Regions from separate parts of the Homo sapiens genome. Here region 2 is linked to region 1. The links come from fine-mapping of genetic effects on plasma protein levels. A gene starts in region 1. The other region holds a variant in brackets. All regions are shown on one strand. Distances are from middle to middle. Region 1 holds the start of ASAH1 (N-acylsphingosine amidohydrolase 1). Region 2 overlaps ASAH1 (N-acylsphingosine amidohydrolase 1).

Region 1 (2,912 bases):
AAGAATAACTCAGGAGGACCTTCACATAGGAATATTGTGAAAAGCCTCAAAAACAAACACACAAAAAATCCTTACAGATGTTCTAAATCAAATGACTTGTTTCCAATTTAAAGCTGCTTCTCATTATTCATATTTATTGAAAGTACTTTTGAAATATCTTTTGTTACCATGAGGCTATAGTTTATCATATAATGACTCCAGTTGAAAAACTGCTTATTCTTCTCAGAGAATGAAGTCACTAAACTTCTGTAAGGTTCTAAAGGTCCTTCAGTGCATGGATCCCAGGATTTTCCAGGCCAGTAAAAAAAAATTAATGAGGCCTTGGCACAGGAGGGTCCAAATTTTTATTCTGCCAAATGGAGATGTTAAAACAAAACAAATTCCATGCACATAACATCTACCTCTGCCGTTATTTTTAAGAACACGTTTGCAACAATGAAAACTTGAAGTCCATACAATCAGAGTAAAGATTAACATTCTAAATTAATAATTTTAGTTTTGCATTCTTATTTTTCCAGTTTCATTGAAAACCTGTGAAAACAGCTTCCCAAAGTGACACCAGTGGCCAGACTAGACTTTGATAATCGCTGTTCTAGATAAGAACTATTATATCCATTGAGAGGTTGTTAATTCTTCTTCTGAAAATAGCTATCAAAATACTTTTGCTAGAATAAATAAAGCTATTGAGAAAGAAGAAAAAACAGCCTCCAACACCTGAAACTGCTCTGAGTCCCACAGCTATCTCTCAATATTATTACAAGCCGATCTGACACTCACAGCCAGGTAAGCTCTGTTTTCCTCCTGGACATCAACAATCCCACAGATACCTACGTCGGATAAGATTATTCTGAGACATGACACACCAAGACAAAGCAATGCCACTTGAAGATTTTCTCTAAGAACAGACAAAAACAAGGGCACCTGCAACGCACAAAACACCAAACATCCCCTTCTCGTGCTAAACAGAATGGCTGTTCCTTCTTTACTCAGTCAGAATTGCCCCACCTTCTAACAGCATTCTATCTACAGCAAAGCCCGGTTCCTCAGTCTTACCCCAAATCATGCAACCGAAGTTCAAATTCTGTAATGGGTTTTTTTCTATAACCTACCGTCCGTCGCTCATGGTGTGTGGTCTCCTTTGCCTCAAAGAACACTAAACCCAATTTGTTCAGCTTATGGTGTGTTCCTGGTGGTCTTTCAATGAAGGGCCCTGACAGTATCAAAGTATCAAAGTCTCTCCCAATTCCCATAAAACCAACTACCGTCAAGCAAATTAATTCCCTACCCACAATGGAGCAATTTTATTTTAAGGCCTTTAATCGTGTCCACATACATGTTCTGTGTATTTTCCTATTACAGGAAAAACTGTATATACTATTCTGGATTCTACTTTTATCTGCTGAACATTATATCAATTTTAATGGCTAAATCATATCCCACCATGATTTTAAAGAATTTCTCCTTACAGGTATAAAAGAAGACAATGCACATCTTGCTTCCACTTTCAATAACCTACCTAAACTATTCAAGACCATCACCATCTAGCCTCAGGCCAGATGCGCCAGGTTCCTACTTATCCGATTCTGTTGGCAAAGACAAACGCAGTCTGATTGCTTTATAAAGAAATGAATTATGAAAGAGTACTGGGCGTCAAGAGGCTCGGACGTTACGCATGTTCAGTAAACAACAGTGTAACCTCTGGCTAAATATTTTCTCACTCTAGGTCTACTTCCTCTTCTGTAAAATGAAAGAGTCACGCTCGTCCCTCACTGTCTCTTGCAGTTAGGAAGTCCGTAGCCCTGTGACTTGCTCGTGGGAAAGAGCCACGGGACAGGCGATCCCATGACTTGGGTGCAAAAGGCCACAGGGGGCCCTTTGGGGCCTGCTCTGGGCTGCTCGCACCGCCCAAGCTTGGGACCACTCAGCGTTTCCCACGGCCCTGCAGTATCCTGGGCTGAACTCCTGAACTTCTTCGGGAGAAAGCACCTGACCATCAGGCAGTCTGTCCTTGATTGAGTAATGCACACAGGTCCACCGGAACATTTTATTTAAACACTTCAAAATGCAAGGGCCTGGAACTGGTTATTCAAGTACACTCACTCAAATCTAAGAATGTGCGAATCACACCCAGGTATCCTGCAGAGACTAGGATTTCCTTTAAAGGAGTTCTAGTTGCAGGTAGCACCGAATCTACCGAGGACGGGGTTCGCCAGCCCGCTCTGCACCCACACCCCTGTGCACGAAACCACAGACCCCCGTAAAGAAGCTGCCCAGCACGAGGTGTTCCTTGTACCCGCTCGCGCCGCCACACCTGCGCCTCCATCCGCGCCCGCACCTGCACGCCCCTCTCTGCGCCTCGGCTCAAGCTCACTCACCGGCGGCGCGTGCTGCGCGACGGCACAGCTGACGGCGGCAGCCAGGAGGACTAAGGCGACGCAACTCCGGCCCGGCATCGCTCTAGCAGCCAACGCCACTCCCCGGACTCCAGCAGAGGCAAAGAAGAGCCGGCTGGGCCGGGGGCAGGCCACGCCCCCTCCGCCGCGTGACCCGCGACCTGGGACCGCACCATTCCAGGCAGTAGGGGGAACGCTCGGAGGAGGCGGGACTGGGAGGAGAGGACGGGGCTTTTCAGTGCCACGAAAAGGGTGGCGTAGAGAAAGAGAGAGAGCCTTCCAGGCTACCTGCAGAAGGAGAGTCGCGATCGCCTTTGGCGCGTGGCGTGATCCATCCCCCTCCCCCACCGCGGGCAATAGTCGGACCGAGCCGGAGCCCCGCCCCGTAGGTGGGGCCGGGAGCTTCACCCGTGGCGCCTCGATGGGGCGCCTCTAGCAGGCGGGTGCAGCCTGTCCCGCGTACCCAGGCGTCCTCGGTACCCACGAAACGGATCCAAAGAGTCTCAACACTAATGTAAC
Region 2 (2,948 bases), 16 kb before region 1:
AAACTTTTGGGGTCGTGGGGAAAATATTTTTCGTTACATGCCATAAAGCTTAAATTGAAATTTTAAAAATAGCTTCCCAAACCATCAATATCTAAGAATAATTTTAACGAATGGCATGTGAGGTCTTCTCCCTGAAAATAAAAGATACTGCTCAGAGAAATCAGTAACTTAAATAAATATTGAGAAAAACAAAGTTGGAAGAATTATACCACCTAATTTGAAGACTTACTATAAAGCTTTAGTAACTGAGGTGAAATAGTATTGATATAAGGGAAGACAAAAAGACAAATATGTAAATGAAACTTAATTCCCCAAACAAAACAACATATATACAATCACCTGATTGTATATACAGATACACATTGTGTGTGTGTGTGTGTGTGTGTGTGTGTATATATATATGTATTGTATATTTATATCAAAGACACCACTGCAATTTGCTGAGGAAAGGATAGCCTTTTGAATTGATGCTGTTTAACTAACTGGATATACCACATGAGAAAAACCTGAAGCTTGACCCATAAGTCATAGCATATACAAAAATAATTCAAAATAGATGATAGGCCTAAATGTAAAAAGTAAACATTAAACATCTAGAAGAAAATATATAAGCATATATATATGACTTTGGGGTAGGCCAAGATTCCTTAAATGGATACAAAAGGCACTACTCATAAAAGAGAAGACTGAGATATTAGACTTCACTAAAATTAAAAATTTCTGTTCATCAAAAGACAAAAGTAAGAGAATAAAAATGAAGGTCATAGACTGGGAGCAGATATTCAGAATCCATATATCTGACAAAGGGCTTATATTCAAAGTATGTAAAAAATTCCTTCAATCTAATTTTTAAAAGGGCAAAAGACCTTCACAAGCCCTTCTCCAAAAGAAACAAAGAAAACCAAAAAAAAAAAAAAAAAGTCAATAAACTGTTCAATCTCATTAATCATCAAGGAAATGCAAATTGAAACTAAAATGCGATACTGCGACACTCAACAAAAAGGCTCAAATAAAGATTGACACTAACAAAAAAAAAGGAAAAAAAAAGACTGACACTATCGAGAGGAGAATTATCAAGAGGAGAAAACTGAAACTCTCATACTCTGCTGATTGTCAACTGCTGGAATCACTTTGGAAAACTGTTTGGCAGAATCTATAAGGCTAAACACACAATTACTCTATAACACAACAGTTCACTTCCTAGGTATATATCCAGAAAATGAGTACCCAGACACCCCCAAAATGTACTACAATATTTATAATTCCTTTATTGTTAATATCACAAATCTGAAAACCACCCAAATACCCTGTTGATACAATAGCACACCACCCATAATGAAATACAAGAAATCACACAGGACAGTTCATATTGTTCAGTTCTATTTATACAAAGTTCACGAAGAGGCAAAACTAATCTATAGTGACATCAGAATAGTGTTTACTGGAGGAGGCAGTATTTTCTGCAAAGGGGCATGATGGAGCATCGTGGAGTGCTGGGCTCTTCCGTATCTTGATCTGAGTCATGGCTACATGCATGCATGCATTTCTGAAGCTTCACTGAGCTGTATATCTAAGACCTGTGCACCTGTGCTGTATATCTAAGACATACAGCACCTGTGCTGTATGTATATCACACCTCAATGGAAACTTGTAAAAGAATTTAATTACTTTTTTTTTTAAAGCTTCTAAGTGAACTTTACCTAAAGGTAT[A/T]TCAGTAACAGCGGCAATACCCTTCATTTCCTCTTCAAAAGGGCCAGGAAAGTTGCCAAGTAGGCCAGGCTGGAAAACAAATATATTAATAAAAGCATTTAACATAATAACAATAAAAAATATATAATATAATATAAACAAATATAATAAAAGCATGCTTTGAAATCTAGTTCTTGGACATATAATTTTTTCTAGATACTGCTATCATAATAAGTGATAGGAATTATTTTTTAAAGCATTTTTACATCATGTAGTTATAAAAAGATTCTATGTAATACTGAATATTGGGCCCCTATACAGAGACCAGATTCTCAGATTGTTTTTCCTGCCTTATTTTTCCATCATTCTCCAGAGAAGGCAGGAACGAGAGTAATTCCACTTGGATGACCTAACCTGACCCACACCACAAAAACATCATAACAAGCACTCCTTATCTCTCTGCACGAATTCACCCTCTAGCCACTGGCATATACCGTTCTTACCATTTCCTTCCCACACTCACAGAGATAAACCTGCACTATTCTATCCATAGCCCTGTGTCATGGTTAATGGCTGATCTTCAGCTAAGATGAAGTAACTGCATTCTTTTAGCAAACCAGAGACATTGAGCAAATTCAGTGGTGGACATCATATATTTATTCTCAATGGCAACTACTAACATCCAGATCACAACTTAAGTTCACGGCCTTTTGCTGAGATAATCTGCTTAAAATTCACGAATCTCACTTTTTTAACCAACTTGGTAATTACATGTAATGTCACCTAAACATATTTTTTTTCTCCCTAGGAACTCAAAGCATTCCCCAAGTGGAATGTTCCAGCCATTTAACAAACAAATGTGACGTAATGGGTATTTATTAAACACTTATTACATCCAAGCACTATGCTTTATACACAGTATGTCATTTAACCCTTACAACCACCATATGAAATATATATTAGTAATTATTATTCTCCCTGATGAGAAAACTGAGGTTTCATAGGTTAAGAAACTTTCCCTAGGACACAAGGCTAGTATGTGACTGATCCAGCCTTAAAACCCAGTATTGTCCGATTCCAAGGCGTGGCACAAAAACTCTCTGCAATGTTGCCCTCCCTGATAACATTCAGAGTAGAGGGGAGATTAAGGCATACGGGGAACGTGGGGGCCTCATCCTCTTTTGCTCCTGCCAGCATTTTTTTGTTTTGAGGAAGTCCGGTAAGTATGAACATAAAGGATAGCCTGAAACAAAAGCTCC

The links. PIP is the posterior inclusion probability: the model's chance that the variant is causal. The UK Biobank Pharma Proteomics Project read protein levels with antibody pairs (Olink). The fine-mapping took linkage between variants from a reference panel, not from the people measured, so its PIPs are less certain.
Region 2: its variant is fine-mapped to the plasma level of the ASAH1 protein (UK Biobank, PIP above 0.99). The variant lies in the coding sequence of ASAH1. If it changes the protein, the assay may bind it differently, which can mimic a change of level.

Annotation. Positions count from the first base shown.
Region 1 is chr8:18,081,606-18,084,517 of GRCh38, forward strand. ASAH1 (N-acylsphingosine amidohydrolase 1) reads right to left here and starts at 2,502. Exons shown (of 14, transcript NM_177924.5): 1 at 2,376-2,502. The coding sequence starts at 2,453. RefSeq lists enhancers at 1,959-2,068, 2,869-2,912 and a silencer at 2,419-2,618.
Region 2 is chr8:18,065,520-18,068,467 of GRCh38, forward strand. It overlaps ASAH1 (N-acylsphingosine amidohydrolase 1), which reads right to left. Exons shown (of 14, transcript NM_177924.5): 5 at 1,701-1,779. Among named protein-coding and RNA genes, the nearest start is that of ASAH1, 17 kb to the right of the region's middle. The variant A/T (reference allele first, on the strand shown) is at 1,711.